Homo sapiens: one gene and its partner. The protein of the gene in region 2 purifies or fractionates together with the protein of the main gene of each other region. This does not show direct contact. Each region holds a gene or a part of one and is shown on either strand. Other genes may lie near its edges.

Evidence for each region. Proteins that work in one complex are often made in the same cells at the same time.
Region 1: the proteins of UBE2Q2 (region 2) and ARPC2 purify together in Homo sapiens (affinity purification with mass spectrometry, with the first as the bait; one study listed by BioGRID). This does not show direct contact.

What each region holds. Positions count from the first base shown.
Region 1 is NC_000002.12:218,244,162-218,248,925, reverse strand, and holds part of ARPC2 (actin-related protein 2/3 complex subunit 2), read right to left. Parts: intron 3,507-4,764; coding exon 3,380-3,506; intron 3,101-3,379; exon of another isoform or gene 3,008-3,100; intron 1-3,007. UniProt on the Homo sapiens protein: Actin-binding component of the Arp2/3 complex, a multiprotein complex that mediates actin polymerization upon stimulation by nucleation-promoting factor (NPF).
Region 2 is NC_000015.10:75,849,212-75,854,547, forward strand, and holds part of UBE2Q2 (ubiquitin-conjugating enzyme E2 Q2), read left to right. Parts: intron 1-5,174; coding exon 5,175-5,276; intron 5,277-5,336.

The sequences.
Region 1 (4,764 bases), on a different chromosome or scaffold from region 2:
TCCCAGAAAACAGATGCCAGAGAATTTCCCATATTCTCACTGTGAAAACAGACAATAAGGTGTAAGGACCTGAACCCTCATGATAGGCCAGGCAGGAGGAGCTGCTCTGAATGGGCCTGACTGAAGTCCACCCTGTGACACCAGCCACCTAAAGACCTGTGTGAGGCTGGGCGCGATGGCTCACGCCTGTAATCCCAGCACTTTGGGAGGCTGACGCAGGCTGATCATCTGAGATCAGGAGTTTTGAGACCAGCCTGGCCAACATGGTGAAACCCCATCTCTACTAAAAATATAAAAATTAGCCACATGTGATGGCGTGTGCCTGTAATCTCAGCTACTTAGGAGGCTGAGGCAGGAGAATCGCTTAAACCCGGGGGGTGGAGGTTGCAGTGAGCCAAGACGGTGCCACTGCACTCCAGCCTGAGTGACAGAGCAAGACTCCATCTCAAAAAAAGACCTGTGTGCTCATCACAAAGTCCTTTGCACTACAGCAGGCCTGCATGCCCCTCTTGCCCTGGTTTTCTGGAATCGTTTTTACCTGCTGCACCTCCTCTACTCACTATCTGCAAAACCCCGTCAGTTGTCTGAAGTTTTCGTTGAAATGAAAAGGAATGCCTCCTAAGGAAGTGTGGAATTTCTGTGTCAATGTGCCCTGGCCTGAAAGTAAATGAACACCACAACAGAAGACAACTATACTTCAAAGAATCTAAGGTGCTTATGACTGTAAGTCTGCCATAATTTTATGTACCACAAGAGAAACATGCTGCCAATTAAAGTGTGACATGCTATGAATTGTAAGATGCATCCCAGCTTCAAAGACAAAAACTTGAAAAAAATGGTATAGCTGGCTGGGCGCAGTGGCACACGCCTGTAATCCCAGCACTTTGGGAGGCTGAAGTGAGTGGATTGCTTGAGGCCAGGAGTTGAGATCAGCCTGGCCAACATGGAAACCCTGTTTCTTTTTTTTTTTTTTAATTTTTTTTGAGACGGAGTCTTGTTCTGTCGCCCAGGCTGGAGTGCAGTCGCGTGATCTTGGCCTATTGCAAGCTCCGCCTCCCAGGTTCACGCCATTCTCCTGCCTCAGCCTTCAGGGTAGCTGGGACTACAGGCACCCACCACCACGCCCAGCTAAGTTTTTGTATTTTTTGTAGAGATGGGGTTTCACTGTGTTAGCCAGGATGGTCTCGATCTCCTGACATCGTGATCCACTTGCCTCGGCCTCCCAAAGTGCTGGGATTACAGGCGTGAGCCACCGTGCCCAGCTGGAAACCCTGTTTCTACTGAAAATACAAAAATTAGCCGGGTGTGGTGGCACACGCCTGTGGTCCCAGCTACCTGGGAAGCTGAGGCACGAGAATTGTTTGAGCCTGGGAAGCAGAGGTTGCAGTGAGCCGAGATCACACCACTGCACTCCAGCCTGGGTGACAGAGAGAAAGAAAAAAGAAAAAAGTGTATAGTTTAGATTTAATGAAATTTGGTAAATCAACAGATTCATCACCAATAAACAGGTTCACCTTTACCACTGAGGTGAATTAAATTACATTTCACAAAGGAGACATTCCAGTGGCATTGGGTGCAGTGTGAACAAGCTTATTAATTCCAAACTGTAAGCTATCATAATCAGCCAGTGCATGAGGCTGGAGCAACTGAAGGAAGACCTGAATTTATTCCGCGAAAAAGTGGAGTAAGTGGATCACGGCTGGAGCTTGGGCTTAATAAGCAAAAAACCAAGAATTGCCAAATGACAGAGAACCCCCATCTAGCTGCTTAGGTGGTTCTCTTCTTAACTCCTTTTTTTGGTGAGATAGGGTCTCACTCTGCCACCCAGGCTGGAGTGTAGTGGTGCCATCACAGCTCACTGCAGCCTCTACCTCCTGGGTTCAAGTGATCCTCTCACCTCAGCCTCTCAAGTAGCTATGACTACAGTCATGCACCACCATGCCTAGTTATCTTTTTTTTTGAGACAGTCTCCCAGGCTGGAGCGCAGCAGGATGATCTCGGCTTGCTGCAACCTCCACTTTCTGGGTTTAAGCAATTGCCATGCCTCGCTTGCCCGAGTAGCTGGGACTATAGACTATAGGCACATGTCACCATGTCCAACTAATTTTTGTATTTTTAGTAGAGGTGTGGTTTCACCATGTTGGCCAGGTTGGTCTCGAACTTCTGACCTCAAGTGATCTGCTCGCCTTGGCCTCTTAAAGTGCTGGGATTACAGGTGTGAGCCACTGTGCCTGGCCCCTTGCTTTTTGTAGAGATGAGCCTGCACCATGTTATCCAGGCTGGTCCCAAACTCCTGGACCCAAGTGACCCACCAACCTCGGACTCCCAAAGTGCTGGGATTACAGGTATGAGCCACTGTGCCCCGCCTATCCTTTACTCTTTTCTTTTTTCTTTTTGAGACAAGGTCTCACTCTGTCATCCAGGCTGGAGTGCAATGGTGTGATCTCAGCTCACTGCAACCTCCGCCTCCTGGGTCCAAGGGATTCTTGTGCCTCAGCCTCCCGAGTAGCTGGGATTACAGGCGCACACCACCACGCCCAGCTAATTTCTTTGTTATTTTTTTGGTAGAGACGGAGTGTTTCACCATGTTGGTCAGGCTGGTCTCGAACTCCTGACCTCAGGTGATCTGCCCATGTTGGCCTCCCACAGTGCTAGGATTACAGGCGTGAGACACCGCACCCAGCCTCAACTCTTTTTTTTTTTTTTTGGAGACAAGAGTCTTGTTCTGTTGCCCAGGCTGGAGTCCAGTGGCACGATCTCAGCTCATTACAACCTCCACCTCCCGGGTTCAAGCAATTCTCCTGCCTCAGCCTCTGGAGTACCTGGGACTACAGACGTGCGCCACCATGCCCAGCTAATTTTTTTTTGTATTTTAGTAGAGACAGAGTTTCACCACATTGGCCAGGATGATCTTGATCTCCTGACCTCGTGATCCACCTGCCTTAACCTCCCAAAGTGCTGTGATTACAGCCATGAACCACCGTGCCCAGCCAAAACTGTACTTGTCTCCTTCAAGCTGGAATCGAACCAGCAACCTAAGGACGTCTCCTACTGAGGAAGTAGCTATAGTCCTCTGCTCTACCAGCTGAACTATTGAAGGGACCTTAACTCTTGATATCAGAATTCAGTCTTATTTTTAAGATTTAAGAAAAATGGGGAAAAAAAGGAAAGGATTACTGTACAAAAATAGCATATGGCCTGCTCTGTAATTAATACCCTGTGACATCCCTCCTTTAGTCACTGCAATGGCAACAGGAACAAGTTGGTATGCCTGCGTTTGCCTACCTTAAAATGTTAACCAAGGTTCTGTGCAGATTTAGGTATTCTGCTGTGTGAACTCATTAAAGCGGCACAAAAGCAGCAAGTGCACCCTGCTCACCAAAGGTAATGTAGCCAATGTTGTCACCCACAGCGGCGTCTGTGTCTTTCAGCTCCAGAGGAGGTTCCCTGTGGCTAAAGAGGACCTGTGGGGCTGTGTGGCTGGCTCTGCGTCCTTCTTTGAACTCCTGCCAAGACAAAGCAAAAGCAACCAGAAGAGAAGTGGGTGTAAGATGAGTGGCAACTCAAGCTATAGGGTTTGTTCTATGTGGTGTGACCTTTGTAGCCCTCCAGACCAGCAGGAGGTTAAAAATAAACTACACCAAACCTGAAATATGACAAGTGCTAGCTGCTACCACTACACTTCAGATTCAAACGGGAGAGACTGCAAAGTACTTAATAAGTCAGATCTTCAAAATGTGATGAAAAGTAGTGATAATCCTTTTCCTTTGCACTAACATAGGTGATAAACTACCATACTTTCTCTGGGCTCTGGGACTTTGCATGAGTCTTTTTTCACTGAGGATCCTGTTGCTATTTAGAATTCATCAATAAAATCTTTAGAGCAAACTTAAGCTCTTCTTGCGGACAGAAGACAATGGAATGAAAGAAGCTGAGTTGTCTTGGTGCTCATAAAGGAAGCCCTTCCTTCTATGTTCCAATCTCCAAACCTGAAGCTTCTACAGTCCATACATTCCTATGTAAATAGACAAGTAATACAAGGCTTCTCTCTCTCAGCCAGATCTGCAAGAACAGAAGTAGATTTTCTAGCAATGCCAGTAAAACTGGATAATCCAAATTCATCAAGTGGGCCTTCCAAGATGATAGACAGCAGGAGGATGCTGCCAAGGACTCTCCAAGGTCTCTTGTTTTAGGAGTTCTGAAGGCATGGTTACACAGCCATGTGGCCTGCGTGCCCTTCTACTGCTGCTCAAATACTGCCTCCTAATACCATCTCCAACAAACCCAGGCAGGTACTGCTCTCTTGCTGGAGCTGCCATGTCTTTTCTACAAACCTCTACTATGATATTTTACCATTCATTAATGTATCTGGCTCCCCTACCAGGTTATGAGTTCAAATCAAAGATCCTGCTTAATTTATCTTTGTAATTTATTCTTCTGTCTTTCAAAGAGGCTATGCAGCACATGCCTTGCTGAGAGAAAGCAAGTGCTTCTACCCTAGCTGGTTTAGTATCATCACACTGTACAGGAATAGGCAAGGGCTGTTTCCAGTTGCAGGCAGGAAGAATAAACACTGATTAGCAAGCCCTCTCGACAATTAGTGGCAAAAGAAAGATGATGGCTGAGGAGCCCCAATGCCCAGCCTGGGACCTCACCTATTTCACAAACTGCCTCTCATGCTAACACTACCAAGCTTTAAGTAGGAAAAGAAATGACCATCAACTGGGTTAGATTAGTCCCCTTTTGAACAGATTTTGTTCCCCG
Region 2 (5,336 bases):
CTATATGCTAATTCTGTCAATTTACTTCGTTCTCCACCCCACATTTATTGAACAGCAAACTATGAAAGTAATGTGTCCCATAACTGGCCTTCAGAAGAATTACAACTGCTGTTATCTCTGAACCTTCCAGAAGTTTGTGCATCAGTTTTAAAAAAATGATGAAATCCCTGAAGATAGCTGTGTCCTACATTTGGAAAGATACAAAAACTGACCATTCTGGTCAACCAGTTTTGGTTGCTGGTGCTTGAGATAGAGCCACACAATGGTCTCAGTGGATTTATGGAGAAAAATAGATACAGAAAGTTACTTCTAAATAAGACAAAAAAATCTTTTTCTTGAGCAGTGACAGGTAAAGAGGTTGGTTTGGTTAATCTTGAGTTGTGTTTCCCTCCATTAAGACAGTTTTATGGTGGGGATGGTAGTGGTGATGAACTTGTTTGAAATTTGTCCACTTACAGTAATGTTTATGGTAGCTTCACAGACAACTTCATTCTCACAGGCCTTAGAATTACTATAAAACTAATAGAATGGATGAGGAACAAAGGACCTGAGTAATTAGATGCTTAGATAATTGTTCTGTGTTTTCATAACTGTGGTGAAAAAGAGTGGTGCTAGAAGCACTTAAACATTCTATGTACGGGAAAACTGCCTGAATTTGTATTGGGATTTTTGAGCACCATTCACTGTTTAAAAACTGATATACCATAGGTCATATTTATTTTAAAGAGAAATAGTAGGCAAACTTATCTTTTCAAGATAGATATAAAGCTTAGTTAACCTTATCAAAATTACAAAACTTAAAGCATGTGAAAGATTGAAAATATTAATACATAGGTTTAAATATTGGTCATTATTTTAGATGTCTTTCAAAGTAGATTCTCTCTTAAATGTTAAACTGAACAAACCTTGAACATGATGTAGAGTTTGTGCTGAAGGTTAAGTTTCCTGGCGTGGTGGATATTTTATAATATGGAAAACAAAACCTTCTTATTGTAAGACATTAAAAGAAATTTAGTCAAAACTAGGAGATATGATTCTACCACTCAGAATATACCACTATCAGAATTTTGTATCTTTCCAGTTATCTGCTCATCTCTTTTCTCCGATGCTTATGTGTGTTCCCTCTCCCTTAAAAAATCAGATTTTTTTGTAATCTGCTTTTTCACTCAACAATATTGTAGATCCGTGTTATAACTTACTCCTTACGTGTAGGCAAGATGAATTCTGACCACCCCAAGGTGGCCATCCTTGTCCCTGTGATTCCAGATCTCCCAGAACTAGAGGTCTAGCTTCAGGGAAAACCCAGATTTTCTTGGCTTAGCCCACCTGACAGCTAATCACTGGAAATGGGGTGGGCTGGTAGAGTCCTTTGGTCAGGTTTTGTGTCAAGAGAGGGAGGAGGAAAGATGGGAGGGAGGTAGCAAAACTGGTCTCAATGGAACTATGTAAGTTAATATAGAATGGCAAAGGGATGTTTCTTCCAAGGAAAGAATTCTAAGGAAGGAAGGAAAGTGGAGGGGAAGGCAGCAGTTCTCAAAGTTTTGGGGTCAGGACTCCTTTACACTCTTGAAAATATATTCAGCACTTAAGGGCTTTGGTTTATGTAAGTTACGTCTATTGGTATTTATCACTACAAGTTAAATCAGAAATATTTAAAACATTAACTCTTTAAAAACTCATCACATATTATTATAAATGTGCTTTTACGAAACAAAATTTTCTAAGCCAAAAAATAGAATAGTAGCACAGTCTTAAATTTTTTGCAAATTTCATTGATGTTTGCTCTGTCATTTGCTTTTGCATTTAATTTGTTGTATGCTATTTGCTTGAAATAATGTAAACAAAATCCAACCTTATACAGATACCTGGTTGGAAAAATTGTGAATATTTTAATGGCCATTTTAGATAATCCTGGATATTCTTCTTTTTTTTTTTTTTGAGATGGGGGTTCACTGTGTTGCCCAGGCTGGAGTGCAGTGGTGTGATCACAGCTCACTGCACCCTCAGTCTCCTGGGACTCAGGTGTAGGCCATCTTACTGGCTAATTTTTTGTATTTTTTTGTAGAGACAGGGTTTTGCCATGTTGCCTAGGCTTCTTTTTTGATGCTCTATCAAAACTTGGTCTTTCTTGAACTTTGGATCTTTTACCCTTGTATGATATTATAACATCATGCATTGGTCATTTAGAAAATAGTGGTTCACCGAGATCTTCTAAATGTTGATACATTTGATTTTACAGTATCAAAATACATTCATCAATATTGCCATCAATGTTATCAGGATATTCTTGGAAAACGGTGGTGGATACAAGTTTTCAAAAATTCTAATTTTTTGTTCAAAAACTTGCATTTTATTATTAGCAGTTTTATTATTGAAATTTATTATGGCCTGTCTGTTGTTTTCCTTGAAATGACAGAATCTCATTTTTTGAGGAAAATGACTGCCAAAAACCCAAGTTGAAATAACATCGTCAGTTATCCTTTCAAGTAAAAATGGTATTCCATTTAAGTGGTTAATTCACTTCATGACTTAGTCACACAAGGGTTTTTTCTCAGGCAGTCTGTAGGAATGCTCATGTATACTTCCCGTTTCATCACTTGAAATATTAAAAAGACATATTCAAGGATTCAGATGTAGTAAAATTTTCACTGCTTCATCATAGACATTCTTTTTATTTTTGAGACAGGGCCTTGTTCTGTCACCCAGGCTGGAGTGCAGTAGCGTGATCACAGCTCAGTGGAGACTCGACCTTCTGGGCTCAATCAATCCTTCTGCCTCAGCCTCCCTAGTAGCTGGGACTACAGGCGTGCAACCACCATGCTTAGCTAATTTTTTTATTTTTTTTTGTAGAGATGGGGTTTCACCCTGTTGGCCAGGCTGGTCTTGAACTCCTGGGCTCAAGTGATCCTCCTGCCTCGGCCTCCCAAAGTGCTGGGATTACAGGCATGAGCCACCATTCCCAGCCTTATCGTAGACATTCTTAAATGAAACTGACCTTTTGTTGCCCTTCCTTTTTAAGCCTTTCCTGTGCATAGTGAAGAATACCATGACTACTAGTAGTTTGGTGTTACCGCCTTTATTTGTGCTAAAGTGCCAGCGTTTTTACCCACCATTGTATCTGCACCCTTACAGCATATGTCAACATGTTAGTATTCTTGTAAAAATAGTTTGGACCTGGGGGTCTGAGGTCCCCACTTTGGGAACCATTGAAATAGGTACTTAGATCTACAGTGTATCATATCTTTTCATCTACAAGATTAAAAACATGATTTCAGTTAATTGTTTTTGTAATTTTCTTAATATGGTTTTGAGGGGTTTCAGTCCAGAGTGAAGACATGTATGTTTCTTGGCTTATGCTGAAGTTTACTAGACAAATACTAACCTAATAATGAGATCCTAAGTGTAGTTGCAGTTTCTTTAGCCTAAGGGAAAAGAAACCTAAAAACTAAAACAGTAAAAATGGTCCAGATGGTGTATTCCCAATGTGTGCTGAAGAATTTGAAGAAGAAAATGCAGTACTCAATAAGTGGTGTTAAGAACAGGATTAATTCTGGAGAGTTTCTCATTTAGCCTGTAAAGAGATTTGGGGCACAGTAAGAGTTAGAGGAATGAAAATAGTAAATAACCCATTATTGACCAGGTATACTATTAATGATGTCCTCCATCAATACAACTTATTCTTAAAAGAACATTTGGTAAAATGCTTTAAAAATATTCAGTTTCTGTGGCTTCAGCTATAAATCAGATTATAGTTCTCAAAGCAGTGTTTCCTAAAATCGTTTCTGTGAAATTGTTTTCCATGACTTGAACCTAGTTGTTCTGAAGCTAATATACGATAATAATGGCTTTTCCCCAATTTATAATAGAAAATCATACAAAGTAACAGAGTAAATGTCTGTTAGTGGGTGAAAGCACATAATGCTTAGTTCATTAGCTTTTTAAAGAAATCACATGTAATTGTGTTTTAAAAAAGATATGGGCCTGGCTTAGTGGCTCACGCCTGTAATCCCAGCACTTTGGGAGGCTGAGGTGGGCTGATCACGAGATCAGGAGTTCAAGACCAGCCTGGCCAGCATGGTGAAACCCCGTCTCTAATAAAAATACAAAAAATTAGCTTGGCGTGGTGGCATGTGCTTGTTATCCCAGCTACTCGGGAGGCTGAGGCAGGAGAATCGCTTGAACCTAGGAGGCGGAGGTTGCAGTGAGCCGAGATTGTGCCATGCACTCCGCCTGGGCCACAGAGCAAGACTCTGTCTCGAGGAAAAAAAGAAAAAAAAATTATATATATATATATATGTATGTATGTATGTATGTGTGTATATATATGTAGTAATGGCATTTCTTGGTAGTACTTGGTTTGTGTGATAGATTAAAACATTAGAATTTTATGGTATTTGAATTACTTTTCTATTGCTCTGTAACAAATTTATCAGCTTAAAGCAACAAACATTATCTCACCATTTCTGTGGGTCAGGATTTTGTGCAATTTACCTTGGGTTCACTGGCTTGGCCTCTCACCAGGCAGCGAAGTTGTTGGTGGCAGCTGTGATCATCCTAAGGCAGGATAGGGAGAGAATCAGTCTCCAAGCTCACTTATGTAGATGTTGGCAGGATTCATCTCACAGGCTGTGGGACTGGGCCTCCGTTTCTGGATGGCTGTTGGTCTGAGGCCTTTTATAATACCTCGCCATGTAGGTCTCTCCATAGGGCACCTCATCACATGGCAACTGGTTTCCATCAGAGGGAGCAATGGAAAGAGCAGGAGAAGGATGGGCAAGGCAGACATCATAGTCTCTTTGTAGCCTAATCTCAGAAGTGATGTTATTACTTTTGCTGTATTCTCTTTGTTAGAAGTGAGTCACTAGGTCCAGGGGCGGGAATTTTACAAGGGTGTGAATGCCAGGAGGTGATGGTGATCGGGGCCATTTTAGAGGCTGCCTACCAGTGTTGAAGAAAATCATTGACTTCTATGAGCTGTAGCAACAGACAGTGCTATGCAAGGAGAATGGTTGTCTCAAAAGTCCAGCTCCTCACAAGGTTTTTAATATGTTGCCTTTTCCCCCCATACATTTTGTTTAAATCCATGGTCATCTTGCCGTTTAGTGGTGTGGTTTAATTGCATATTTGGGTTAGTCTGTATGTAAATGTTTAACATGTGTCTCTGTGTTAAACAGGAATCCTATCCATCTTCTTCACCGATATGGTTTGTGGATTCTGAAGACCCAAATCTGACATCAGTTCTGGAACGTCTAGAAGATACTAAGAACAACAATTTGGTAAGAAAATAAGCCAAGCTATTTTCTCTTTTCCTCATGAACATTACATATAGAAATTAA